Linked DNA regions of Homo sapiens. The protein of the gene in region 1 purifies or fractionates together with the protein of each later gene. This does not show direct contact. Each region holds a gene or a part of one and is shown on either strand. Other genes may lie near its edges.

Region 1 (16,253 bases):
ATAAAATGAAGCTGGTGTCAGCAAGTGTGGTCCAATTATTTACATAGGTGCAGAAACAGTGCAAATATCCCATATAGGCCACCTTACGTTTGCTTTGCTGGAAGTTTTCATAAGAAATATCAGATTGGGGCTGGGTGCCGTGGCTCACACCTGTAATCCCAGCACTTTGGGAGGCTGAGGCAGGTGGATCACTTGAGGTCGGGAATTCGCAACCAGCCTGATCAACATGGTGAAACTCTGTCTCTACTAAAAATACAAAAATTGCCGGGCGTGGTGGCTCACGCCTGTAATCCCAGCACTTTGGGAGGCTGAGGCGGGCGGATCACGAGGTCCAGAGATCGAGACCATCTTGGCTAACACGGTGAAACCCCGTCTCTACTAAAAATACAAAAAAAAAAAAAAAAAAAAATTAGGTGGGCATGGTAGCACGTGCCTGTAGTCCCAGCTACTCATGGCTGAGGCAGGAGAATCACTTGAACCCGGAAGGTGGAGGTTGCAGTGAGCCAAGATTGCACCACTGTGCCAGCCTGAGTGACAGAGTGAGACTCGGTCTCGAAAAAACAAAACAAAACAAAAATTAGCTGGGGGTGGTGGCAGACGCCTGTAATTTCAGCTACTCGGGAGGCTGAGGCAGAAGAATCGCTTGAACCCAGGAGGCGGAGGTTGCAGTGATCTGAGATCACACCATTGGACTCCAGCCTGGGTGACAAAAGTGAAACAGTCTCAAAGAAAAGAAAGAAATATCAGAGTGGACCTGTATTGTTTGCTTCTTTGCAGAGGCAAGAAACGCAATACCTATAATTTGGGTCAATTTCTATGTTCCTGGGCCTGCCAGGAAATCACCTTCCTGGTCACCTGCAAGGCCTGGGGTCTGCACCCTCAGGAGGATTTGCAGGCACTCCTTCATAACAGCAACCCAAGGTCCGCAGCAGCGGCTGGTCATCCCCAGTGAAAGAGCAGAACTCTCCATATGACAACCTGGACAAGGCCTTGGTGACCTAACCAATTCATCCAATTGTCTTCTGTAAAAGGAGAAGAGTCTCTTAACTGAATCTATGTGCTGTGGTTTGAAAGTGTCCCCCAGAGTTCATGGATTGCAAACCTGATCCCCAGTGTGGCAGTATTGGAGGTGGGACCTTTTTATTTTTTTCTGAGATGGAATCTCGCTCTGTCATCCCAGGCTGGAGTGCAATGGTGCGATCTTGGCTTGTCGCAACCTCTGCCTCCCAGGTTCAAACAATTCTCCCGCCTCAGCCTCCCGAATAGCTGGGATTACAGGCATGTGCCACCACGCCTGGCAAATTTTGTATATTTAGAGAGACGGGGTTTCTCCATGTTGGTCAGGCTGGTCTTGAACTCCTGACCTAGTGATCCGCCCGCCTCCACCTCCCAAAGTGCTGGGATTACAGTCGTGAACCACCACACCCCGCCAGAGGTGGGACCTTTAAGAGGTGATTAGGTCTTGAGGGCTTCACCCTCATGAAGGGATTAATGCCATTATTTCGGGAATTGATTCCTTATAAAAGGATGAGTTTGGCCCCTTTCCGTCCAGCCACATAATGCCTGCTGGCATGTTATGTGGCAGCAGGAAGGTCCTCATGAGATGTGGCCCCTCCCTCTTGGACCTCCAAATCTCCAGAACCAATAAATCCCAGTTTATTATCAATTACCCAGTCTGTGGCATTATAGCAGCACAAAACGAACTAAGACACTGTAGGGTCCAGCCCTATGGGGCTAAGCGGGTGTTGTCCCCATGTGCAGAGACGAGAGATTGTAGTAAATAAAGACACAAGACAAAGAGATAAAGAGAAAACAGCTGGGCCCGGGGGACCACTACCATCAAGACGCAGAGACCGGTAGTGGCCCCGAATGGCTGGGCGCGCTGATATTTATTGCATACAAGACAAGGGGGGCAGGGTAAGGAGGGTGAATCTTCTAAGTGATTGACAAGGTGAAGCAAGTCACATGATCATAGGACAGGGGGCCCTTCCCTCTTAGGTAGCCGAAGCAGAGAGAGAAGGCAGCAAACGTCAGCGTTTTCTTGTATGCACTTACAAGAAAGATCAAAGACTTTAAGACTTTCACTATTTCTTCTACTGCTATCTACTACAAACTTCAAAGAGGAACTAGGAGTACAGGAGGAGCATGAAAGTGGACAAGGAGCGTGAACATTGAAGCACCACAGGGAGGGGTTTAGGCCTCCGGATGATTGCGGCCAGGCCTGGATAATATCCAGCCTTCCACAAGAAGCTGGTGGAGCAGAGTGTTCCCTGACTCCTCCAAGGAAAGGAGACTCCCTTTCGCAGTCTACTAAGCAACGGGTGACTTCCCAGACACTGGCGTTAGGGCTTGACCAAGGAGCCCTCAAGCAGCCCTTATGCGGGCGTGACAGAGGGCTCACCTCTTGCCTTCTAGGTCACTTCTCACCATGTCCGTTCAGCACCCGACCCTATATCCGCCGGTTATTCCTACGTTTTGTTAGTAATGCAACAAAGAGTAATGGTAAAAGCTAATGATTAATAATGCTTATAATAATGATTGATAATTGTCCATGGTCATCCCTATATCTAATTTGTATTATGACTATTCTTATTCTAAATATTTTCTTTATTATACTGAAACAGTTTCTGCCTTCAGTCTCTTGCCTCGGCACCTAGGTAATCCTCCGCCCACAAGACACCATGCAAATACCTACGTTGCCATGAAAACTGAGGAGGCTCAGTAAGAGCCTCTGAGAATCAAGGGCAGGAGGTGAAAGGACAAATCTCTGGGGAATCTCCAAAATCATGTATTTATTTTATTTAGAGACAGAGTCTCGCTCTGTTACCCAGGCTGAAGTCCGGTGGTACAATCAAGGCTCACTGCAGCCTAGACCTCTTGGGCTCAAGTGATCCTCCTGCCTCAGCCTCCCGAGTAAGTGGGACTGTAGGCTCTCACCACCATGCCCAGCCAATTTTTAATTTTTTGGTAGATATGGGATGTCACTATGTTGCCCAGGCTCAAGTTTTTTTTTTTTGAGACAGAGTCTTGCTCTGTCATAGCCTAGGCTGGAGTGCAGTGGTGCAATCTCAGCTCACTACAACCTCCACCTCCCGGGTTCAAGCGATTCTTCTGCCTCAGCCTCCCGAGTAGCTGGGATTACAGGCGTGCGCCACCACGCCCGGCTAATTTTTGTATTTTTAGTAGAGACGGGGTTTCACCATGTTGGCCAAGCTGGTCTCGAACTCCTTAACTCAGGTGATCCGCCCACCTCAGCCTCCCACAGTGCTGAGATGACAGGTGTGAGCCACCGCACCCGGCTAAGGGTTTCAGTTTCTATCAAGATGTTTTGTCATATCTAAAACCATCTTGGGCCGGGCGCCATGGCTCACACCTGTCATCTCAGCACTGTGGGAGGCCGAGGTGGGCGGATCACCTGAGGTCAGGAGTTCGAGACCAGCCTGGCCAACATGGTGAAATCCCGTCTCTACTAAAAATACAAAAATTAGCTGGGTGTGGTGGTGGGCACCTGTAATCCCGGCTACTCGGGAGGCTGAGGCAGGAGAATCGCTTGAACCCGGGAGGCGGAGGTTGCAGTGAGCTGAGATCGTGCCATTGCACTCCAGCCTGGTGACAGAGCGAGACTCAGTCTCCAAAAATAAAAAAAGATCATTTGAGTCCTCGACCTCACTTGAGCCTCAGGCCTGGGCAAAAGAACGAGACTCTACCTCTAAAAGACAAACAAGACCGGGCGCAGTGTCTCACGCCTGTAATCCCAGAACTTTGGGAGGCCGAGGCGGGCGGATCACAAGGTCAGGAGATCGAGACCATCCTGGCTAACACAGTTAAACCCCATCTCTACTAAAAATACAAAAAAATAGCCGGGCGTGGTGGCGGGCGCCTGTAGTCCCAGCTACTCGGGAGGCTGATGCAGGAGAATGGCGTGAACCCAGGAGGCAGAGCTTGCAGTGAGCCAAGATAGCGCCACTGCACTCCGGCCTGGGCGAAAGAGCGAGACTCCTTCCCAAAAAAAAAAAATCAAGGGGTGCAACTGTTCCTTAACCCCGTAGTCACCTGCACCCATCTAGGGACTAAGCTGGGCGGAGAACTACAGAACTGAAGGATGGGAAGGCTCTTAGGTCAGCTGCTCAATCACAGCCAGCGAGGCTTGTCCCCACACACAGAGGATCAGCATCACATGGGATGACCACATACCTGGGACAGGCGGCTGCACGTGGTGGCCACGGCCTGGCTGGCCCTTCACTGCTGGTTTTTTTCTTTTTTTGAGATGCAGTTTCGCTCTTGTTGCCCAGGCTGGAGTGCAATGGCGCGATCTCGGCTCACTGCAACCTCTGCCTCCCAGGTTCAAGCAATTCTGCCTCAGCCTCCCGAGTAGCTGGGATTACAGACACCTGCTACCACGCCTGGCATATTTTTGTATTTTTAGTAGAGACGGGGTTTTGCCATGTTTGCCAGGCTGGTCTCGAACTCCTGACCTCAGGTGGTCCACCCGCCTCGGCCTCCCAAAGTGCTGGGATTACATGCATGAGCTACTGCACTTGGCCCCTTCTCTGCTGGTGAGGAGCCCAGGAAACCTTTCCTTGTGGAGGGACAAGGAACAGTGAGTTGCAGGCTTTGCTCCTACTCAGGGGACCACCCTCTGGGGACAGTGGGGGACGTCAGGTCCGGCTCCATTCCTGCCTTCCGGTGGAGGGTGGAGTCTCCTCCAAATTCCTCTTGGGCAGGGTTTCGCGCTTCAGAGCCTCTGGCCACTTGCTGTGCAGCTGGTGGTGGTGGGCATCCTCGCCCCAGCAGGCCCTGCGTGGTGGGCTATCCTGCCTCCCAGGGGCCCAGCTTTGGCCCTGGACTCAGCCCCGGGAAACTGTAAGTGAGCAGTGCTCAAGGCCTCGGCCCTGAGGCACCTTTCTGCCATTATGATTCTGACCCCTGCCCCAGTTCCTACTGGGATGGGCAGGAAGCTCACAGAGACTTCAAAAGGCAGCGGATTCCTCACTCAGGCTTGTGCACCTTGCTCCTCTGCGGCCTGGGGGAGTGTGGCTCATGTGTGGCACAGAGCAGAGCCTCCATGGATGCCTTTGATCGCTGGCCTATGGGAGGGAAGATAGAAGAAGCTGGGAGGTGGCTCCACCAAGCCTGCAGCCCAGGGTGGACAGGAGAGGGCAGGCCCCAAGCACCGGTGCTGATGGGGGTGGTGGCAAAGCGATGAGGGGAAGGGGGCAAGCATGAGACCAGGAGCCCTGTTGCCCACAGCCATGCCACCAAACCACCCACCTTGTCCCATCCTTGTCCTCATCCTCCCTCAGAAGCTTTCTTCTTTTACCAGGCGACTTCTGAAGCTCACACTCAACCTTCAGCCCCCACCCCCTAGAACCCTCAGTACCTGCAACCCCCAAAGGGAAGCAGCCGGGTCAGCTGGGCAGGGGCCCAGCCTCAGGCGGCAGCATCCTGGAAGGCTGGAGCTGGCAGTGGCCTCTGCCCTCAGAGTTGGGTGGTCCTGAGCCCCCCTGGGAGCTGGCCTGCCCCCTGATGTTTGATGGGGCCCAGACTAGAGGCTTTCCGGGTCACAGGGGCTCCTTCCTCCTCTGATGGTCCTGCCAAGACAGGAGGGAGCAGAAGTGGGGAGGAAGACCAGGCCTTCAAAGGCCCGTGTGCAGGCCAACTCAAGGACAATGAGAAAGGGCCTCCGCAGAGCGGAACCGTCGCAGACAGAGCTTGGGCAGCAGGAACAGACCCACCATCCCCAGTGCCTGCACGCTCCCTGTAGCTGCAGGGGCCCTTCTGCAGAAGTGGGGCCTCTTGCCTGGGAGAATGGGCCTTGCTGCCAGGCCCGTCATACTGATCACAGTTCGGTGTCCTGCCTCCCTGGGGTGGCGGCCCACGAGGTGAAGAAAGCCAGGCTCCTACCTTGGCGTGGTCTCTCCCAGCACTTTCTTCCAGATCCTTGCTCCCAGGCTCAGGGGCTCCTCTCAGTTAGTTCCTTTGCAGCTCCAGCTCTTTTTGTGGGAGCCCAAGAACCACCCAGCCCAGGATAGACCATGGTCAGTGCTGAGGTCCTGCTCCCTGCAGATGCCAACACATACAGGCCCAGGCTGCTCAGGGCTAGGGGCAGTGTGCCAGCAGCCCAGGGAGAAGACAGCTGTAGCCAAGTCTGCCTGAAGAAACAGTTTGGGGCCTTTGGGGGTCTGATTGCAGGAGGAGCTGTCACTGAGAGGGTGGAGGCTCAGGGGAGTGGGGTAATGCTCAGGCCAAACGGTCCCGATGGGCTAAAACCTTAAACTCTGTCTCTTCTGAGTCCCCCTCACTGAGTACCCCGGTGCCTGCACACCAACCCCCTGGTGTAAATCCCTAGCAGGATACTCCTGGGAAGCTAGCAGGCAAACAGTCACTCCAGGGCTAAGGGTGGACAGGGGGCTCGGCACATCGCAGCCCCATCCGACTAACCCTCAGCCCTTGAGAGGTGCTCGTGGAGCAGTGGCCTTGCCGGGAAGAGGCTCCTCTACTCCTCTGACCACCGAAGCTGGTAGCTCGTGTGGGCCCAGAGAGCCCAGGGCAGTTCCAAGAAGCAATGTGGGGTAGTCTGGGCTCAGAGGGCATGACTGTACAATCCGTGAGACCAGCCTGTGGTGGGTAAGGACCTGCCCAGGGCCTGGGGAGAGGCAGCCTGTTAAACAGGCCAGGCCATGGCTCTAGTTCAGGGAAGCATCCACACAGAGAGATGTGCTCAAAGAATTAATGCCAACTCATTAAATACAAATGTTTTATTACGCAAACCACATGTAGGTCCCAGGCTCAGGGGCTTACCCTACAGCCCCCACTGGTCCCTGGCTCCAAGCCTGCTCCTTGCCCTTGCCCACCCTGGAAAGCCAGGATCTCCTATGGAGTGTGTAGGTGTCCACGAGTGTACCGGTGTGCGGGCCTCCTGGGCTGCAGGCACTCAGGCATGGTGGCAGCATTGAGGGAAAGACAGGTGTTGGGGAGCGGGGTCCCCACCTGCCCAGGCTCAGGAGTCACAGGGGTCTGCACAGTCCTTTCTGCTGTGGAACACGTGATAGATGCTGGTCGGGGGGAACATAGCAACAGCGCCGAGCAGAGAGCCCACCTGGATGGCCACGCCGGCTGCCAGCAATGCCGGCCGGCCCCCGCCATGCAGCAGGGAGCTGGCTGCCACCTTCACGTAGGAGAACACGCCAAGACACAGCACCCACGACAGCACCTGAGGGGGACACAGCACCAGCTGAGCGTGAGATGTGCCTGCTCCAGGGCAACGCCCCCCCACCCCACTTCATGTCCCCCTGTGCTCACCACGAGGACCACCCCCGCCGAGGTGCCCACCAGGGGCGGGCAGGGGCTCAGGACTGCCAGCGCCATCAGGTAGCCCCCACAGAACACGCCCAGCAGAGAGAGGCCGCCCAGCCCTGCCAAGGACCTGCAGTGAGCGAGCAGAATGTCAGGGCTGACTGCGCCAGGACCTGGCTCCTAGCCCTGAGTTCCACCCGCACAGGGGCTGGGGGTCCTTGTGTACCTGCACAGCACACCCATGGCCAGGAAGCAGGCCAGGGGATTGGCAGCACTGCCCAGCACCACAGCCAGGTGGTAGGCCAGACGCCCGTAGGGTAAGCAGGAAAAGCTCTGCACGGCAGGCAGCACGCCATTGGTCAGCGCGTTGGTGGCGGCCAACAGGCCCAGCAGGCAGGCACTGCGGGCTGATAGAAGCTGATAGGCCTTAGGGTCTGGACCAGGGGTGGTGCCTGCTGCCTGGCTTGGTGGCTCTTGCAGTGGTGAGGACTCTTCCACCTCTTCCTCTGCTCCTGGGGCTCCCACCTGGAGGCCTGATCCTAACTCCCCTGTGGGTACAGATGGTGGTGGCGGCAACAGCAGCAGAAGACCCTGGAAGGCAGCAGCTGAAGCGACCAGAAGGGCAGTCAGTGCCCAGAAGAAGGTGCTGGCGGGAAAACGCTCAAGGAAGTCGAGCGGGGGGCCAGGGGTGCCGTTGATGGGGGCTGGCGGGCACTCGAGGCGGCCCACACCCTGCACTAGGGCCAGCACGCAGGGCAGCAGGGCACTCAGGCCTTGACCCAGGAAGAATGACCGTAAGAAGCGAGGTGGCAGGTGGCTCAAGAAGGGCAGGAAAGTGACATTCGAGGCACAGCATGCCAGTGCCAGCACAAAGGCCAGTGCTAAGAAGGCCACAGAATGCAACTGTCCTGCCACTGGGGCCACATGGTGCCACAGAGAGGCCAGCAGGGCTGTGCCCACCATGCCCAGCACCTGCACCACCCGGATGGGGACCTGCTCGTCCTTTCCTGGGGCCAGCCTCCTCCAGAGGGTCACCACCAGCAGACCCAGGTTCCCCAGAGCCACAAGCACAGAGACGTAAGAGGGGAGGCTCCAACCTGCAGGGAAGGGAGGAGGCCATGTCAGGGTCATGATGCCCAAGGGAGGAAGAGTGCCAAAGCCCACCTTCCTGGGCACACCTGCACCTCCTCCCACTCACCCTCTGGAAGCTCTCTGACCACCACAGGTAGCTCCACCCAGATCCCACTGACCGCAGCCCAGGAGTCTTGGGCACACCTGCACCTCCCTCCCACTCACCCTCTGGAAGCTCTTTGACCACCACAGGTAGCTCCACCCAGATCCCATTGACCGCAGCCCAGGAGCCCATGCCGAAGAGAGCCACCAGCAGGTGGGTCAGCACCGGACGGGCGGGCGTGGGTGCTGCCATTCAGCCCAAGGCTGGGCCCTTCCAGGTCAGGGCAAAGGTCACAGCCAGTTCTTTTCCCACCTAGGGCCAGACACGCTTTGGCTCTCCTGGGAAGTGAAGACTTCTTCTAGCTTGAAAGAAACAGAGAAACAGATAGGATGCAGAGCCGGAGTCAGAACAGGGTGAGACCAGGGGAACTGGGGGAGCCCCGGGCAGGAGCGCAGATGGGGAGGATTGGCTAAAACGTACCCAGCGGGACCGCCGGCAGGCAGGGAAGCAGGAAGCCGGCCCGAGTCGCTGCGGCCCCAGGGGAGGAGGCCGAAGGAGCGAGTGGAGCCCTCCTCTCCAGGGAGAGGCGGGGCTGGAGTCAACGCCACCACCACCCCAAGCCGGACGCCGGGAAAGGGCGCCTACCAGGAGGAGCCACGCACACCCCAGGGCTTCACGGTGCCCGCGACCGCAAGAGCCAAGTCAGATCCCAGGGGAGTGGCCGGGACGGCTCTGCTCGGAGGGGCGCCGCCCTCTCGGTACCGTCAGGTGGGCGACTCGGGAGCCGTCCGGTCCCTGCGCCTCCCGGTCCCGCGCCCAGTGCGCTCCCGCTCCAGTGCCGGCTTCCCGCCACGCCGGGACACCGCCGTCCGGCCCAGGGACGCCACCTCAGTCCGGAGCGCGCAGGACCCGGCAGCAGCCACGACCCGACTCACCCGTGGCGGTTCCGGGCCCGCCCCCGGCATGGCCCACGACCGGAAGTCCCGCCCCGGAAGCTGGTCGGCGGGCGGGCGGGCGTTGAGAGGAACCGGGGGGTTGTCGGTCTATAAGCCTCGCCCGTTCCGCTCCCTGGGGCTTCCCCGAGCGCCGTCGGTGGTCATGGCTGCCCCAGCCTCCCGGCAGGTCCGACGCAGAGCCCGGGCAGCGCCGCGGCCCCGCTCGGCCGAGGACTGGTGGTGGGACCGGCTGGCGCCGAGGGGCTCGGGGTACCACCTGCTGCAGTCCGACAGCATGCTGCTGGTGCTGTCCGAACCCGGCCCCGCCCGGCCCCGCGCACAGCGGCGCGCTTCCCGCCGCACTCCCCGGCAGCCGCCCCGGGGCCCCAGCGCCGCGGCCAAGCCCAAGGCCGGGCTCAGGTCCGAGGCGGCGGCCGCGCCCGCACCCGCACCGGCACCCACGCCCACGCCCGAGGAAGGGCCCGACGCGGGCTGGGGAGACCGCATTCCCTTGGAAATCCTGGTGCAGATTTTCGGGTTGTTGGTGGCGGCGGACGGCCCCATGCCCTTCCTGGGCAGGTAACGCTGGTGCCGGGCCCGCCGCCGAGCGTAGCGGCTTGGGCCAGACGTGGTCCGAGCGGTGGCCCGGGCGGGGGCGGAGGGCGAAAGCATCGGAGCGCGCACCGCTCAGTCCGAGAGCGCAGCCCCTTAGGCGCCCAGTTGGAGTCCCAGGAGCCCGGCTTTGAGCCGGGGTGTCTACTGCGCTGCGAGAGGGGGGCATCGCCTACGGAGGGGCCGGCACCCTCAGCACGCTGTCCTCCCAGGGCTGCGCGCGTGTGCCGCCGCTGGCAGGAGGCCGCTTCCCAACCCGCGCTCTGGCACACCGTGACCCTGTCGTCCCCGCTGGTCGGCCGGCCTGCCAAGGGCGGGGTCAAGGCGGAGAAGAAGCTCCTTGCTTCCCTGGAGTGGCTTATGCCCAATCGGTGAGGGGTTCCCTCTCTTCCTTACCCCTGGCTCCAGGCTCCTTCCGTCTCCCTGCACCAAGGTGTTGGGTGGGAAGGACTCGTGTGGGAACATTAGTGCAGCTCTGCCTCCGCTGTCGGCCCAGGTTTTCACAGCTCCAGAGGCTGACCCTCATCCACTGGAAGTCTCAGGTACACCCCGTGTTGAAGGTGAGAGCTCCAGGCTGTCCTGCACATCAGCTGTGACACTCTGGGACTGTTCAGTACTCTAGGAAGTGGGTCAGGCACCTTGGGGGCCCAACGCTGCTCCGTGGGGATGTCTGCCTGCCTGCCTGGTTCTCTTTTCCTGCTGTTTCCTCCAGCAGGGAGGTATCAGAGGCGGGGACACCCAAGTAGGCCTGGCATGGGCAGAAAGGAGGTCACAGCTAAGGCGGTAGAGTGGGGTTGGCACCAGCCACTTGTCTGTTTCCCTTGTGGATCTTAGCCTGTCGTCTCCCAACCCCAGCTGCCCCTCTGTCTCCCCGCAGCTGGTAGGTGAGTGCTGTCCTCGGCTCACTTTCCTCAAGCTCTCCGGCTGCCACGGTGTGACTGCTGACGCTCTGGTCATGCTAGCCAAAGCCTGCTGCCAGCTCCATAGCCTGGACCTACAGCACTCCATGGTGAGCCCTGTGTCCCAAGGGGCCCTGAAAAAACCCAGGCCGGGGTGACGGGTGCTCTTGTATTGGGGCCCCAGGTGGAGTCCACAGCTGTGGTGAGCTTCTTGGAGGAGGCAGGGTCCCGAATGCGCAAGTTGTGGCTGACCTACAGCTCCCAGACGACAGCCATCCTGGGCGCACTGCTGGTAAGTTGGCATTGGTGGGAGCAGAGGCAGATGCTGAGCTGGGGACTGCCAGGCCACTGACCCTGTGACCTACCCCCTCCCCCCATCTCTGCAGGGCAGCTGCTGCCCCCAGCTCCAGGTCCTGGAGGTGAGCACCGGCATCAACCGTAATAGCATTCCCCTTCAGCTGCCTGTCGAGGCTCTGCAGAAAGGCTGCCCTCAGCTCCAGGTACCTGGCGCCCTGCCTCTCCCACCTGTCACACCCTCCCCCATCTACAGCCTGGACCTTGCCCCCAGGTGCTGCGGCTGTTGAACCTGATGTGGCTGCCCAAGCCTCCGGGACGAGGGGTGGCTCCCGGACCAGGCTTCCCTAGCCTAGAGGAGCTCTGCCTGGCGAGCTCAACCTGCAACTTTGTGAGCAACGAGGTCCTGGGCCGCCTACTCCACGGCTCTCCCAACCTGCGCTTACTGGATCTTCGTGGCTGTGCGCGCATCACGCCGGCTGGCCTTCAGGATCTGCCATGTCGGGGTCAGCAGTCCTGGGTGGTGGCCGGGCGGGTGAGGTGTGGGGGCCCTTGTCACCTTGTAGCTTATGCTCACTCCTTTCACTGCAGAGCTGGAGCAGCTTCATCTGGGCCTGTATGGCACGTCAGACCGGCTGACTCTAGCCAAGGAGGGCAGCCCCTTTTTGACCCAGAAGTGGTGCCATACACTGCGAGAACTGGACTTGAGTGGCCAGGGGTTCAGTGAGAAGGACCTGGAGCAGGCCCTGGCTGCCTTCTTAAGCACCCCTGGGGGCTCACACCCAGCCCTGTGCTCTCTTAACCTCAGGGGCACCCGGGTCACACCAAGCACTGTCAGGTCAGCATCCCCTACCCCAGTCCCTGGAGCCAGTGTGGCTGTCACTGTGTCTGCCTGGGGCCTGGAAGTTGTGTCCTGCCTGGCCTGAGACCTCCAGGGGTCAGAGGGGCATGCATACTGTCCAAGCCCCTGCGTGGGGTGGGCCTGAGGACACCAGGGGAACTGGGCTTGGCCTTGGTGGCTATGGGTGGCAGAGCCAGGTGTCGAACACCAGCAGGCACAGCTCCCTAGCCTGGCCCAGCCCTTCTGAGGCAACAGCTCAACTTCCTGTGGTCTGCCCTCCCCACAGCTCTGTGATCAGCGGCTGCCCGGGCCTGCTCTACCTCAACCTGGAGTCCTGCCGCTGCCTTCCCCGGGGTCTGAAGCGGGCCTACCGGGGCCTGGAGGAAGTCCAGTGGTGTCTGGAGCAGCTGCTCACCAGCCCCTCACCCAGCTAGGCAGCCACAGACCTGGGACACCTCAGCCAGCTTGCCCACCCTCCACCTTTGCCCAATTTCAGATATTTGAGCATTTTGTTAAAATAAAACATTTTTAGGAGTTCTGTGTGTGTGGTCCTCAGGGTAGGGTTGGGCAACAGGTTATACCTGATGGAGCCACTGGGGCTACAGCCGGCCCAGAGCCTGTGTGTTGTGGGGTCAGGGTGGTCCCATGGGCTCTTGAGCCTGCAGGTGGCCATGCCTTTGCCTGCCCACTGCTGGGTCCAGTGTGTGTGTTCCGTCCTCGGGGACACTGGTGAGCTTGTCTGTGGTTGCATGTGGGTGGGGGGTGGGAGGGGGTGGGGCCCCGCCCAGCTGTGGGGCTCACTGAGTGGTCGCCGCCTGCAAATTTCTCTCCAGCTCAGGCCTAGGGTGTCCACCCATCCACCCTTCACATGGGGACTGTGAACAGGCCATACAGGGGGCCTCCAGTGGATGGACTGGCCAAGAAGTTAATGCCTACCGCAGGACCTCACCCTGGACTCCCTAAGAGGTGGTCAACAGAGCAGCCCCTTCTAGAACCTGCCCAGAACTTCTAGAACCCATCCGCGGTCCACCCTGGGCCGCTCCCTGGCCTCGCTGCCCTGTCAGTCGCCTGTGAGCTCCTGCTCCTTCCTGGGCCTGCAGCCCTGGAGAATTTGCTCACCGAGGTAGGAGTGCCGCTGTGGGCAGTGGGCGGCGGCAGCGGACGAGCGGCCAGGCTGACCACCTCTGCCTGACTCAGATGCCTAAGGGCCGGGCCGGCAGCCTGCCCACGACCTCCATCGGCTGGCGCTTCCAGCTCTGGTTCCTAGGACTCACCTGCCCGGAGCGCCACCTGGCCAGACGCCTCAAGAACAATAGCTTCTACCCATTCGTGCAGCAGGAGCCAAACGGTGCGCGCGAGGCTGGGCGGGGCGGGGCGGGGCGGGGCTGGGAAGGGCGGGGCGGGGGAGGAGGGAGACGGGCCCGAGGCCTGAATGGGGCGGAGCCAGGTGGGCAGAGGCAGGGCCAGGGCCCTGGGTGGGGCCGGCCGGTGCTCCTGGGGACGGAGAGGCCGCAGGCGAGACGTCGCCTCCGCGAGCCCTGCGCGGACCCAGCTAGTCCGGGCCAAGCCTTGGCACCGCCACCCCCGGCTGCGGGCAGGGCCGGGGCGTCCTCACGCGCCGCGCCACCCCCAGTCTTCGTGCTCGAATACTACCTGGACACACTGTGGAAGGGGATGCTGCTCTTCATCATCAGCGTGGTCCTGGTCAGCTTCAGCTCCCTGAGAGAGGTGTGAGCCCCTGGGCCCGACCCCCACCGCCCTCCTCCCCTGAGGGCCGGCCCCGCGCCGCTCAGACTCTCCGCGTGGCGCCCGCAGGTGCAGAAGCAAGAGACCTGGGTCTTCCTCGTGTACGGCGTGGGCGTGGGCCTGTGGCTCGTGATCTCGTCGCTGCCGCGGCGCCGCCTGGTGCTGAACCACACGCGCGGCGTGTACCACTTCTCCATCCAGGGCCGCACCGTGTGCCAGGGCCCCTTGCATCTGGTCTACGTGCGCCTGGCGCTCAGCTCCGATGGTAACGGGCCGGGAGGGTGCGCCAGGGACGGGGAGGCAGCTTGGGAGGTCGGAGGGGCGGCCAGGCTGGCTAAGTCCGCTCTCCCCGCAGCCCACGGAAGGTGCTTCTTCCACCTGGTCCTCGGCGGCCACAGGTTGGAGCCCCTGGTGCTGGTGCAGCTGTCGGAGCACTACGAGGTGGGTCCCGCCCAGACACGCGCCCTCCTCAGGACACGATGACACCGATCACTGTTTAAGGTCTTTGGGTGGGGCCGTTTCCGCACGCAGAGGGTAAATACAACACGGTCTTCGGTGCTGGGGGCCGTGGAGAGGGCGCCGGGGCTTCGGGCAGGACGGGGGATGCAGCCTGGTAGGGGAAGGAGACGCCTGGACGGCGACTCGGGTCTGTCCTGTCCCGGCCCCAGTTGAGCGCCACCTGCTCCCACAGCAAATGGAATACTTGGGCCGTTACATCGCCCGGAAACTCAACATCAACTACTTCGACTACCTGGCCACCTCCTACCGGCACGTGGTTCGCCACTGGCCACCCCCTGGCGCTGGCACTGTGATGGGCAAGAGCCCCATGGGTCACAAGCCCAGCTCCTCTCAGTCCAGCCTGGAGGTGTGACTCTGAGGGCCTCCCCCACCTCGGGACTGTGTTCTCGGTAACCTCCCAGCCCCACTCTGGGGCAGATCAAATGTGAGTCCCACTCACTGGCCTTCCTTTCAATAAAGCTGCCTCAGCTTCCACACGGATCATTTTAGGGGGCAGGGGAGGCCCTCTGGTGCCTAGGTCTTCCACTGTTGCGCACTCCTAGGACCTCAGAGAGCCTGTGCCTTCCAGCTGACTGAAGCAAACCCCACAGCTTGTGTTCGAAGACAGGAACAGCTGAGAGCAAGGGATGGCATATAGCCAGGCCTCTGAGGTTCGGCCCATCACTAGAGAGGCTGGGAACTCCATCCCCTCTTAGCCAGCAGCACTTAACTTGTCCTACCTGACCTCAGAGGTGCTGACCAATGCGTGGAATCCAGGAGTCAGAATCTGGCCCATTCTGGACCCGGTGCCTGCTGCTACTCCAACCAGCAATGGGGTGGGGTGCGGCCAGAGAACAAGCCCTGTGCCTGGGGTGCATGCTTGCCCCAGTACCCACAAAGCTGCTGCCGCTTGCCTCCAAGGGGGTGGGCACAAGAGTCCCGGGCCAGGGTGCAGGGCCTCCTAGGAGGGAGGATGTGCAGTGCCCTGACACCCGCTCGCCATGCCCGCTGGAACCCCAGGCCCGCGCCCCTGACACCCGCTCACCGTGCCCACTGGAACCCCAGGCCTGCGCCCCTGACACCCACTTGCTGTGCCTGCTGGAACCCCAGGCCCACACTCTCCTGTCCAGTGGATCCCCCAGCTATCACTGCAGCACCTGAGGCCTCCTGAGTGCTGGGGGCTGTTGTGGAAGCCGAGAAGGCTGTGGGCCATGGGGTCCCAGGGAAAGCAGGACCTGGCTCTCCGGATCTTCAGGCATTATCAGCTGAACGTCCCTGCAACCAGGAGCAGCTACATAATTTGCAGGGTCCCATGCCAAATGAAAATTTGGAGCCCATTGTTAGGAAGTTAATAAGTGGGGTGCAGTGGTGTATACCTGTAGTCTCGGCTGCTCAGGAGGCTAAGGTGGGAGGACAGCTTAAACCCAGGAGTTCAAGGCTAGCCTGGACAACATAGTGAGACCCCAGTCTCTAATAAAATAAACAATAAAAATAAAAATAAAGTTATTAAGAATTTCAAGATAGACTGGGCATGGTGGCTCACGCCTGTCATCCCAGCACTTTGGGAGGCCAAGGCGGGCGGATCATCTGAGGTCAGGAGTTCAAGACCAGCCCGACCAACATGGTGAAACCCTGTCTCTACTAAAAATATAAAATTAGCTGGGTGTGGTGGTGCATCCCTGCAATCTCAGCTACTCGGGAGGCTGAAGGAATAGAATCGCTTGAACCTGGGAGGCAGAGGTTGCGGGTGAGCGGAGATTGAGCCATTGCACTCCAGCCTGGGTGACAGAGTGAGACTCTGTCCCAAAACGACAACGACAACAACAACAGCAACAAAAACTCAAGTATGGGGCCTTTCTGAGCCTGGGGCCCTGTGTGACTGCCCAGGTTGCAGGCTCGTGAAGCCAGTTCTGCCTGGAACCATGACTTAGAGTCTCTACTTGACCCCCAATCCCAAG
Region 2 (10,428 bases), on another chromosome or scaffold:
GAAAAAGGGTTGCAATACTAACAATTAGAGAAACATTGGAAAATAAAAGTGATTACAAACTAGGCTTATAAAATATATCTGGACATATTTTGAATGCTGATGATTGAGAAAGAGCATGTTTAATTAAAGCAGATAGATGAAGATTTCTGTAGAGATTCTTAAGGGGATCCTTTACAAAAGCACTTGTGATCCTTGAGGTATCTCTATTTCAAAACTTTTTTTTAATTTTCATTCACTCCTTCAGCATATATTTATTGAGAGTAGTATCTACCATGTGTCAGGCACTGTTCTTGGCATTGGGAATACAAGGTAAGTATACATGCAGAATATATGGGAATATAGGGAGCTTATATTCTAGTGGAAGGAATGAGAAAGGAAAAAAAATGATATCAGGAACTGCTAAGTGCTTTTCCTTAATGGAGGTTTATCATCACCATTACCCTAAGACTAATATTAAGTAAGTTTATACTTATAACCTTACATGATCAAGGTTAAAATTTCTCTTTGTTCCTAAATGGAACTAAAGACAGGAGGGGGAAATCAATGGGCACAGACATTTCCTGAGGTTTCTAACAACAACTGCAAGATGGGAAAGAAATATGTGTGAGAAAAAGATTTGCTGACCTGTGATAGATGAGGAAAACAATGGGCGTGATATTTTTGAGAGGGAAGAGATGTTAAGTTGGGCATAAGTCACCAAGCCTTGCCATCAGTCATGGAGAGTTTTGGCATGGTTGCAAGTGATTTGGAGGGGGAGGTAGTCTGCATTGACGTCTTGAACATTGTTGTTCTTCTCTTTCCCTTCTCCCTTGTCCCTCCCTCCCTTCCTTCTTCCTTCTGCCCTTTCCTTCCTTTAATCCTCTTCCCTTCCCTCCCCACTTCCCTCCCTCCCACTCTTCTTTTCTCCTTCCTTCCTTCCTTGAAGCAAACATGTACTGATAATTGCCAGACTGTTATACCAAGCATTAATTCCTGGCCCTCGAGGAGCATATAGCCTAGAACCGTGTTCTCAACTCTGGGATTAGTTATATCCAGGCATGGTAATTTTAACTGTTCAACAACCTGCGTAGCACAAGCCAACCAATAAGAATGTATGTCAGTCAAAATTTGAGTATGGAATCCTGGAAGCCCCTCAATGTGCCAGTAGTTAACCTTGTAGTTGCGGGATAGTGGAGAGGTAGAAGGTCCTAACGGAGGTGTTGTAGTAGCCAGGACAATGGGTGGGCAAGAAGACTACTCAGTGGGGAACAGTTTCAGGGCAGTAGCTATTTACTAAGTGGTAGAAAAGTATTCGTTATTTTACCAATGACTATCATTTAACAATGATATGCCTGTATGGATGAATACCAACTAAATCCTTAGCTCCACCTACATCCAATGCTTAAAGAGATTAGGCGGTGGGATTATGTGATGGAGGAAACCTTTTTCTGGGTCTTGATCTTATTCTTGAGAAAGATGATTGGCATCAGTTGGTGATGAGGAAAAAGAGGGAAACAGCTTAAGTAAAGATGGAAATTGAGAAATCGTATACAGAATGCCATTAAGAAACCAACCTGTGTGGAGGTGTGGGCAGCAAGAATGTACTGTAATAGAATGGGAGGCAAATTTGGAAGAAAAGGTTGTATACAGCAAGAGAGAAAAAGAGGTTGGTTGTTGTGTCAGTGGAGAACAGGGAAACATATTAGGGTTAGTTATTTAATTCTGATATAGCAGAGAAAGGGGGAGGGGGGCTTCTGTATGTCCTTGAGCAGGGAATTGTATGATGAAAGGAACATATGAAAGGAAATATTCTGCTGGCTATATGAAGAAGAGACTGAAGAATGCAGAAGCCAGTTTAAGAAGTTACTTAGGCAATTCTGGTAGGGTTAATTATGGCAGGGACAAGGATGGTGACTATGAAAGTGAAACAAAGTGTTCAATCTGACAGATATTGCAGGACCATGTGAGGAGTGGAGAGAGGGGAAACAACAAGAAACATAATACATATTATCCTAAATATGACAGCTGGCTTTCTAAATATCCAAAGAAAAATATAAGTCTATGATACTAACTCCTTTAAAATAATATATTTAACTATGTAATTATCCTACTTAATTTAAAAAATAAAGATTCTAACTTTTGAAGACAAGGCAGTATGAATTGATAGCCTTTTGACACTAAGAAAAATACTGCTATATGATATTAATACGGAAGAGCATAGCATTAAGCTAAATTTTCTATTATTGATTTATATTAGCATGGAGAACATGTATGATGTTAAATCATTAAAATTTATGTGAAACCTAGCAGACTTCATTGTTCTGATGTTTATCTTACTTAGTAAAAGTTATTTCCAAATGAAACTTTTATCTTTTGAAGGTGGGAAGAAATGCTTGATTTTTAACTAAGTTAACTTTAAGTTGACTCTTAAGATAACAGGAAAGCTTTAGGAGCCTAATTAAACCATGTATTTGCTCTAATTACTTTCGCTGGAGACTGCTAGGAAACAAAAGCAGCAAACAGACCTGTTCTGTGTGCAGCAGTCAGGCCTTTGATGGTTGTTTTCTCTAGCAGAGGTTTTGAGTAGCACAGAAGTAAAGAAGCTGAGAAGCAAAGCCATCATCTACAAACAGTGGCTGCAGCCACAAATCACAGGGCAGCCCTCATTCCTGCATAGTGTAGAAAGCATCTTTCATTGTACATGATTTATGTCCCAACACAGAGAAGCAATCGTCATCACTAACATCATTTTTTAATATCAAGGGTGGCATCACATTTTTATCAGCATAATTGGACGTTAGCTCATGAAGCTTTTAGAATTAATACTTAGAAGATAATTTATACGTGGGACAAGAATAATAGTTTTTTGATACTGGTTACTTTTCCTCTTAGGTTTTATTCTCTTGAATAATGTCGTCCATATTTAATACAACAGTTTAATTTTTAAACTAAATAAATCCACACTTGAATTACCCATTTCGATTTTAGTACAAGTTGAGTTTAGAATATTCATGATCATGTATGTAAGAAAAGAAGCAGATGAATTTTTGTTATCACTGACAAGTCAATTCAAACAATTGCTTTCTTAAAACAGGACTCACAGGAAATTCCTTTTAAAAGCACACATCATTAAAGGCATATTTCTTCATTAGTTGGAATTGGTTTTAAAGGTATTGTGGCTATTTATCCATTTACATTAGTTTATAGCCATAAAATGCCAGTTACAATGCTTGTGTTTTTTATCCCTTGAGTTGAATTGGCAAACTAAAACAAGAACTATCTTTTAAGTCTTATTATTTATTATCTGTTGTTTTAAAAATCTGTATTTCAGACCCTTTGTGCAGATTCCAAACTTTACAGTTGTAATAACTGAATATGCAAGGCAACTTTAGCCTTCTGGGATAAACTGTCCTAAAATAAAAACAAAAACGAAAAAAAATAAGAGACAGGAATCTATAACCAAGAGAGGGTAGAGCATTAAAGCCACCACTGAGTGAGTTCAAGCCAAATAAAAATTCTCTACATTTTGCCTAAACCATCTAGATATCTGTTTTACTTTGCCTATGAGAATCTGACCTAAACTAAATGACTATTCTATATCATTAAGTTGTCCAGGAAAATGAAAATTTAAATGTATGTCAGACAAGCTCTAGCATCTGGTACAATTCAGTAATGATGGTCTGCTCTACAGAGCTTCAGTGTTGAGACAACTTTAGGACTGAGAAGGTTTGGTTGACCTGTAGGAAGAAAATAATGTTCTAGTCAGACATTCTCCCAGTTTACAAGTACTCATGCTTGCCAGATTAGGAAAGATACAAAGTAAAATTCTTCTGTGAAGCATCTCACTATAGCTCTAATTCCACTTCGCTGCAGCCAAATAATATACCCTGGGTACAAAGTGATCAGCACTGTTCATCTTTCACTGTAATAGTTTAGAAATTATTTTCACACTTCTTTTTTTAACACATTGATTAATGCTAGATATTTCCCCTTAAAATAGAAAATGTCTCATAAAGTATTATTTCAGAGTGATAAATAAAATTTAACTAATTTAGATGCTCTCATAATTTGTTGACAAAAGAAGAAACCTATTTCTCCTTTTAAAAGAGCATATAAGCTGAAATATATGAGATCTTTTAAAAGAAGTTTAAAAGTGACCATGGTGACACTTGTATCAACAGCTCCCTTTCAAACTGTGCTACAAATCACATCATGCCCAATTTACATATCTTTCAAAATAGAAGAAAATCAAGTTAAATGTGATTTTTAAAGTCAACAGACTGGGGAAAAAAAACTTGCAACAAATACCACAAAGTTTTAATGTATTTATTACATAAACAAGTTACACATAAGAAGAAAATACTAAGAATACAATAGACAACACAAAGGACATAGGAAATAATATAATGTCAGTGAATATATATAAATGTTTAATCTCACTAGTTAAAAAAAAAAAGCACATTGAAAGAATAGTGGAGGCCAGGTGCAGTAGCTCAGGCCTGTAATCCCAGCACTTTGGGAGGCTGAGGCAGGTGGATCACAAGGTCAGGAGTTCGAGACTAGCCTGGCCAACATGGTGAAAACCCTTCTCTACTAAAAATACAAAAAATAGCTGGGCATGGTGGCGGGCACTTGTAATCCCAGCTACTTGGGAGGCTGAGGCAGGAGAATTGCTTGAACCCGGGAGACCGAGGTTGCAGGGAGCTGAGATCACGTCACTGCACTCCAGCCTCGGTGACAGGATGAGACTCCATCTCAAAAAAAAAAAAAAAAAGAATAGTGGAATACCGTTTCACCCATCTTATCTCTAATTTTTTAAAAATAAGAATGTCCAATGCTGACAATCAGTCTGGTGACAGGGTAAACTAATATAATATTTTTGAAAAATAATGTATTAAATATTCATATCTTTTAGCCTACTAATTCCAGTGCTCAGTTTTTACCCAATGGGAATTTTAAAAGGCTGTAGGTAGAAGATATTCATTGACATGTTATTTATAATACTGAAAAAAATGAAAACAACCTAAATGCCCCAAAGCAGATGATTAATTACATTAATATTCATCGATTGTGTTGGATAATATGTTGTATTTTAAATGATATTTATGCTGATGCATAATAATATGGGGAAATATTGTATAATGTTCAGTGAAAAGAACAGGATGCAAAATTATATAAATTGTAAGCCTACTGCTCTATGTAAAAACTATATGTACAGGAAAAAGGACATGAGGATTTAAAAATCTCCAGTATTTTCCCATTTCATTTAATATTCATTTTGATATTTTCAATGTCATGTTATTACTCAAAGCACTTTCAAATATGTTGCCTTATTTGTCACATTTCTCTTTAAAAAAAAAAAGAAAAAAACCTTGTGCTTGGAAAGACTTATAAAATATCCTAATGACTATCAAACAAAATCCCAAATGAGAGCATTTGTTATCATTTTGGTTGTAAGTGCAGGGAATCTTGTATATATGTGACTACGCAGCTGAAATATGTAGCAGTCACAGTCAGGGATCTCTCAGCATCCACACTCGTTCTGCCTCTAGCTCCCTTCCGAAACCACGGCTGCTTCCAGCACCTGTGAATATATTGCACTTATAAACCATTGGCAGCAGAGGGAATGTTATTGAATATTTGTAATATCTGGGGGACAACCCAAACCAATTTCTTTTTCTCTTAAATTATAGCATCAAAAAGGAGCCATTTATTCAAATACGTGTGTTCTGTTTCTAACAGAGCAAATTCTTAAGAGGGCAGAAATATGGTTTATTTTTATGATATACATATTGCCTAGTTTACTGTTGGATTTTATAAATAGTACCCTTTGCCATATCAACCCTAGAGCAAGGGTGAACTGACATTCCATTCTTTCAGAGAGAAATGCTGTATTTCTCTCCTCCTCTCCCTCCATTCCTCTTTGCAAACCTGGTCACTCCTTTGATAATTCACGACCCATCTCCACCATTAAGAGTCTAAAATCCTAGTCAAGTAATAACTGGGGTGGTGGGGGAGAGAGGGAGAGGGAGAGGGAAAGGGAGAAGGAGAGGGAGAGAGAGAGAGAGACTTGAGGAGGTTGCACTTACACTCCGGCAGTTTTTCCAGAAATGAGGGAGGCAGTAGTTCTTACTTTTGTGATGTCAACTTGTAGACTGAAATGCATCAAAGCTCCTCTTCTTCTTCTTGTTGACGCGAGGGATGTGAAATGTGCTCTAGAATATGCATTCAGCGTGGTCCTTTGTTCTAGGTATGAGCTTTTCTTTTTCTAAAGTTTTTCGGTCTCGCTCAAGGAAAGGAAAGCAATATTTTGAGATTCTTTTAAAGGCACCTTCCAAAGCATTTCCCACAGAAAAATACCTTCACAGCCCAACACTGGTTATTTCAGTAAGAATCGAGTCCAATTTTTTCCAATATGGCTGTATACATTGCAGGCCCCCAAATTTGTGCTTTCATAGTCATCGTTAATCAAATAGGCAGAAACACTGTATTTAGGGAACCTGTGTTTCGTGGGCTAGAAGTGCATTCTGATTAATAAAGATCATGTTCATTTTGAATGCATCGCTGTTATTCGTGTGCCTCAGAGTCGCGGGCTTCTGTCAGGGGTGCAGCGGGCTCGGGAGTGCCTGCAGAGCGGTGGGAAGCAGTTCTGAGCGCCCTGGTCGTCAACCCGTTTTCAGGGGGTGCCGACACTTTCTCCCAAGAAGCTCGATCCGCCGCCTTGTGCGGCTGGAAAGAATGAACCAGACTGTGACAGGAACAGAGAATTTATGTGATTGACAGGGAGTACCAGGGCACCCGACTCCATCCCGGGTCACCACGGCTCTGGGATTTGCACGAGTTTACCACCACCATTAACAGCTATTTGCGTAAGGTTGTTTACCGCCTGAGAGCGCCACAAGCCGACAGCGAAGCCACTTTGGGACCCCAGCCACGCCCCCTCTCCCCTCTCCCCTCTCACCCCTCCCTCCCGCCAAACTAATGATTTCGGGGCTGCCTTCTTGCCGGACCCTCCCATTGGCTCCTATCCCAACCAATCAGAGCCTTGCAACAGTTTCACCTGGCTCCCGCTTCCCAAATAAACAAACAAACTGTCCCGCGACTGTGCCCGCTCTGCACCCTGGCGCCGCAGGCAGGCACTGCTTGCGCTACGCCCCCTCCCACCACCTCCCACCAATGGGGCCCCGACTGTGGCGCCCTCTCCCGACCCTGATAGCCGGCCGCTTTCTCCTCCGCCCCTCCAGGCCTTCTCCCGCCCCCTCATGCCTTCCTGGACTCCCTGTTAGAATCAGCTTGGCCAGAGAGCCCGCCTCCTCCTCTCGGTCCTCCCTTGGCCCACAGGCCTGGAGATTGACCGGGAGGATTTGGCACAGCCGGAGGTGGCTCCGCCTCCCGAGCCCGCCGTCTCCTCCCTTGCTCACCTCTACTGGTGGCCGCTCGCGCCCCTCCATTGCGCCGGTAGCAGGATCCGCAGCGGCCGCCGCGTGAGGCTGTGGTCACGTGTTGTTTTGCCCGCTGTCGTGCGCTCAGAGTGGAGTGGGCGGGGGCGCGGGCCAAGGCAGGAGGGGGCTGGGGCGGGCAGACGAGGGTAGACAGCCTCTTCCCCCAACCCTCCCTTTCCTGAATTCCCCCTCCTCCTCGCTCACCTTAAAACCATCGTGCATCACCATGGCGAGTTGCTCCTTCACTCGCGACCAAGCGACAAGAAGACTAAGAGGTGCAGCAGCGGCGGCAGCGGCAGCTCTAGCAGCAGTGGTGACCACCCCGCTTCTTTCCTCGGGAACCCCGACCGCACTCATTGGGACCGGGTCGTCTTGTCCGGGAGCCATGTGGCTCTCCACGGCCACTGGCTCCCGGTCAGACTCCGAGTCCGAAGAGGAGGACCTGCCCGTCGGGGAGGAAGTCTGCAAACGCGGCTACCTGCGGAAACAGAAGCATGGGCACAGGCGCTACTTCGTGCTCAAACTCGAGACTGCTGACGCCCCAGCTCGGCTGGAATACTACGAAAATGCCAGGAAGTTCCGGCACAGTGTCCGCGCCGCGGCGGCTGCAGCAGCGGCGGCCGCCTCTGGCGCCGCGATCCCCCCGCTCATTCCACCGCGGCGCGTGATCACCCTATACCAGTGCTTTTCCGTGAGCCAGCGAGCAGATGCAAGGTACCGACACCTCATTGCTCTTTTCACCCAAGACGAATACTTCGCGATGGTGGCCGAGAACGAGTCGGAGCAGGAAAGCTGGTACTTGCTGCTCAGCCGCCTCATCCTCGAGAGCAAGCGCCGCCGCTGCGGCACGCTCGGCGCGCAGCCGGACGGAGAGCCGGCCGCGCTGGCGGCGGCAGCGGCGGCGGAGCCACCCTTCTATAAAGATGTGTGGCAGGTAATAGTCAAACCCAGGGGGCTGGGGCACAGAAAAGAGCTGAGCGGCGTGTTCCGGCTGTGTCTAACCGACGAGGAGGTCGTGTTTGTGAGGCTGAACACCGAAGTGGCCAGCGTGGTCGTCCAGCTCCTGAGCATCCGTCGCTGTGGACACTCGGAGCAGTATTTCTTCTTGGAAGTAGGCAGGTCCACTGTCATCGGTCCGGGAGAGCTCTGGATGCAGGTCGATGACTGTGTGGTTGCCCAAAACATGCATGAGCTGTTTTTGGAGAAGATGAGAGCCTTGTGTGCAGACGAATACAGAGCCCGCTGCCGCAGCTACAGCATCAGCATCGGCGCCCACCTGTTAACCCTGCTGTCCGCTAGGAGGCACCTGGGCTTGGTGCCGCTCGAGCCGGGAGGCTGGCTCAGAAGGTCCCGCTTTGAGCAGTTTTGCCACCTCAGGGCCATCGGCGACGGGGAAGACGAGATGCTTTTCACCAGGCGCTTCGTAACACCCAGCGAGCCTGTGGCCCACTCCAGGCGAGGAAGACTGCACCTGCCCAGAGGGCGCAGGTCAAGGAGAGCGGTTTCAGTGCCGGCCAGCTTTTTTCGCCGCTTAGCACCCAGCCCAGCACGTCCCCGGCACCCTGCAGAAGCCCCGAACAATGGAGCTCGCCTGTCTTCTGAAGTGTCTGGTTCTGGCTCTGGCAACTTTGGGGAGGAAGGCAATCCCCAGGGCAAAGAAGATCAGGAAGGAAGCGGAGGTGACTACATGCCTATGAACAATTGGGGCTCAGGAAATGGCCGGGGCTCAGGAGGTGGCCAGGGCTCAAATGGCCAAGGCTCCAGTAGCCATAGCTCGGGAGGAAACCAGTGTTCAGGCGAGGGACAGGGATCCCGAGGTGGTCAGGGCTCAAATGGCCAGGGCTCAGGAGGAAACCAGTGCTCTAGAGATGGCCAGGGCACCGCAGGTGGGCACGGTTCAGGTGGTGGCCAGAGACCTGGAGGTGGGCATGGCTCAGGTGGTGGCCAGGGACCTGGAGATGGCCATGGCTCAGGTGGTGGCAAGAACTCTGGGGGGGGCAAAGGCTCAGGAAGTGGGAAAGGATCCGATGGTGATGGTGAACGTGGAAAATCTCTGAAGAAAAGATCCTATTTTGGCAAATTAACTCAAAGCAAGCAACAGCAAATGCCACCACCTCCACCACCTCCTCCTCCACCCCCACCAGCTGGAGGAACTGGTGGAAAAGGGAAGTCTGGGGGAAGATTCAGACTTTATTTTTGTGTTGACAGAGGAGCCACGAAAGAATGCAAAGAAGCCAAAGAAGTGAAAGATGCAGAGATCCCAGAAGGTGCAGCTCGAGGTCCCCACAGAGCCAGAGCTTTTGATGAAGATGAGGATGACCCATACGTGCCAATGAGGCCAGGGGTGGCCACCCCTCTTGTAAGCTCCAGTGATTATATGCCAATGGCTCCTCAAAATGTCTCTGCTTCAAAAAAGCGCCACTCTCGATCCCCTTTTGAAGATTCAAGAGGGTACATGATGATGTTTCCCAGAGTGAGCCCACCACCTGCTCCGAGTCCTCCAAAAGCACCTGATACTAATAAAGAGGATGACTCAAAGGACAATGACAGTGAGAGTGACTACATGTTTATGGCTCCTGGAGCCGGTGCAATTCCAAAAAACCCCAGAAATCCTCAGGGTGGCTCTTCCTCCAAAAGTTGGAGCTCCTACTTCTCTCTACCAAACCCTTTTCGGAGCTCACCTTTGGGACAGAATGACAACAGTGAGTATGTGCCAATGTTACCTGGAAAGTTCCTGGGGAGGGGCCTAGACAAAGAAGTCTCCTATAACTGGGACCCCAAAGATGCAGCTTCAAAGCCTTCAGGTGAGGGATCATTCTCAAAGCCTGGAGATGGGGGATCACCTTCAAAGCCTTCAGATCATGAGCCCCCAAAGAATAAAGCTAAGAGACCTAACCGACTTTCTTTTATTACAAAAGGATATAAAATCAAGCCAAAACCACAAAAGCCCACACATGAGCAGAGAGAAGCTGACAGCTCTAGTGACTACGTCAACATGGACTTCACT

The links.
Region 2: the proteins of FBXL6 (region 1) and IRS4 purify together in Homo sapiens (affinity purification with mass spectrometry, with the first as the bait; 2 studies listed by BioGRID). This does not show direct contact.

The regions. Positions count from the first base shown.
Region 1 is NC_000008.11:144,351,763-144,368,015, reverse strand, and holds FBXL6 (F-box/LRR-repeat protein 6), read left to right. Parts: upstream 1-9,543; 5' UTR 9,544-9,568; coding exon 9,569-9,984; intron 9,985-10,229; coding exon 10,230-10,388; intron 10,389-10,513; coding exon 10,514-10,577; intron 10,578-10,894; coding exon 10,895-11,026; intron 11,027-11,100; coding exon 11,101-11,208; intron 11,209-11,302; coding exon 11,303-11,416; intron 11,417-11,484; coding exon 11,485-11,716; intron 11,717-11,801; coding exon 11,802-12,048; intron 12,049-12,337; coding exon 12,338-12,485; 3' UTR 12,486-12,585; downstream 12,586-16,253. Other genes in the region: SLC52A2 (solute carrier family 52, riboflavin transporter, member 2), read right to left, coding at 7,001-7,213, 7,303-7,426, 7,523-8,393, 8,593-8,722; CATSPERQ (cation channel sperm-associated auxiliary subunit TMEM249), read left to right, coding at 13,249-13,399, 13,685-13,779, 13,867-14,062, 14,153-14,238, 14,489-14,668.
Region 2 is NC_000023.11:108,733,564-108,743,991, reverse strand, and holds the start of IRS4 (insulin receptor substrate 4), read left to right. Parts: upstream 1-7,428; 5' UTR 7,429-7,647; coding exon 7,648-10,428. UniProt on the Homo sapiens protein: Acts as an interface between multiple growth factor receptors possessing tyrosine kinase activity, such as insulin receptor, IGF1R and FGFR1, and a complex network of intracellular signaling molecules containing SH2 domains.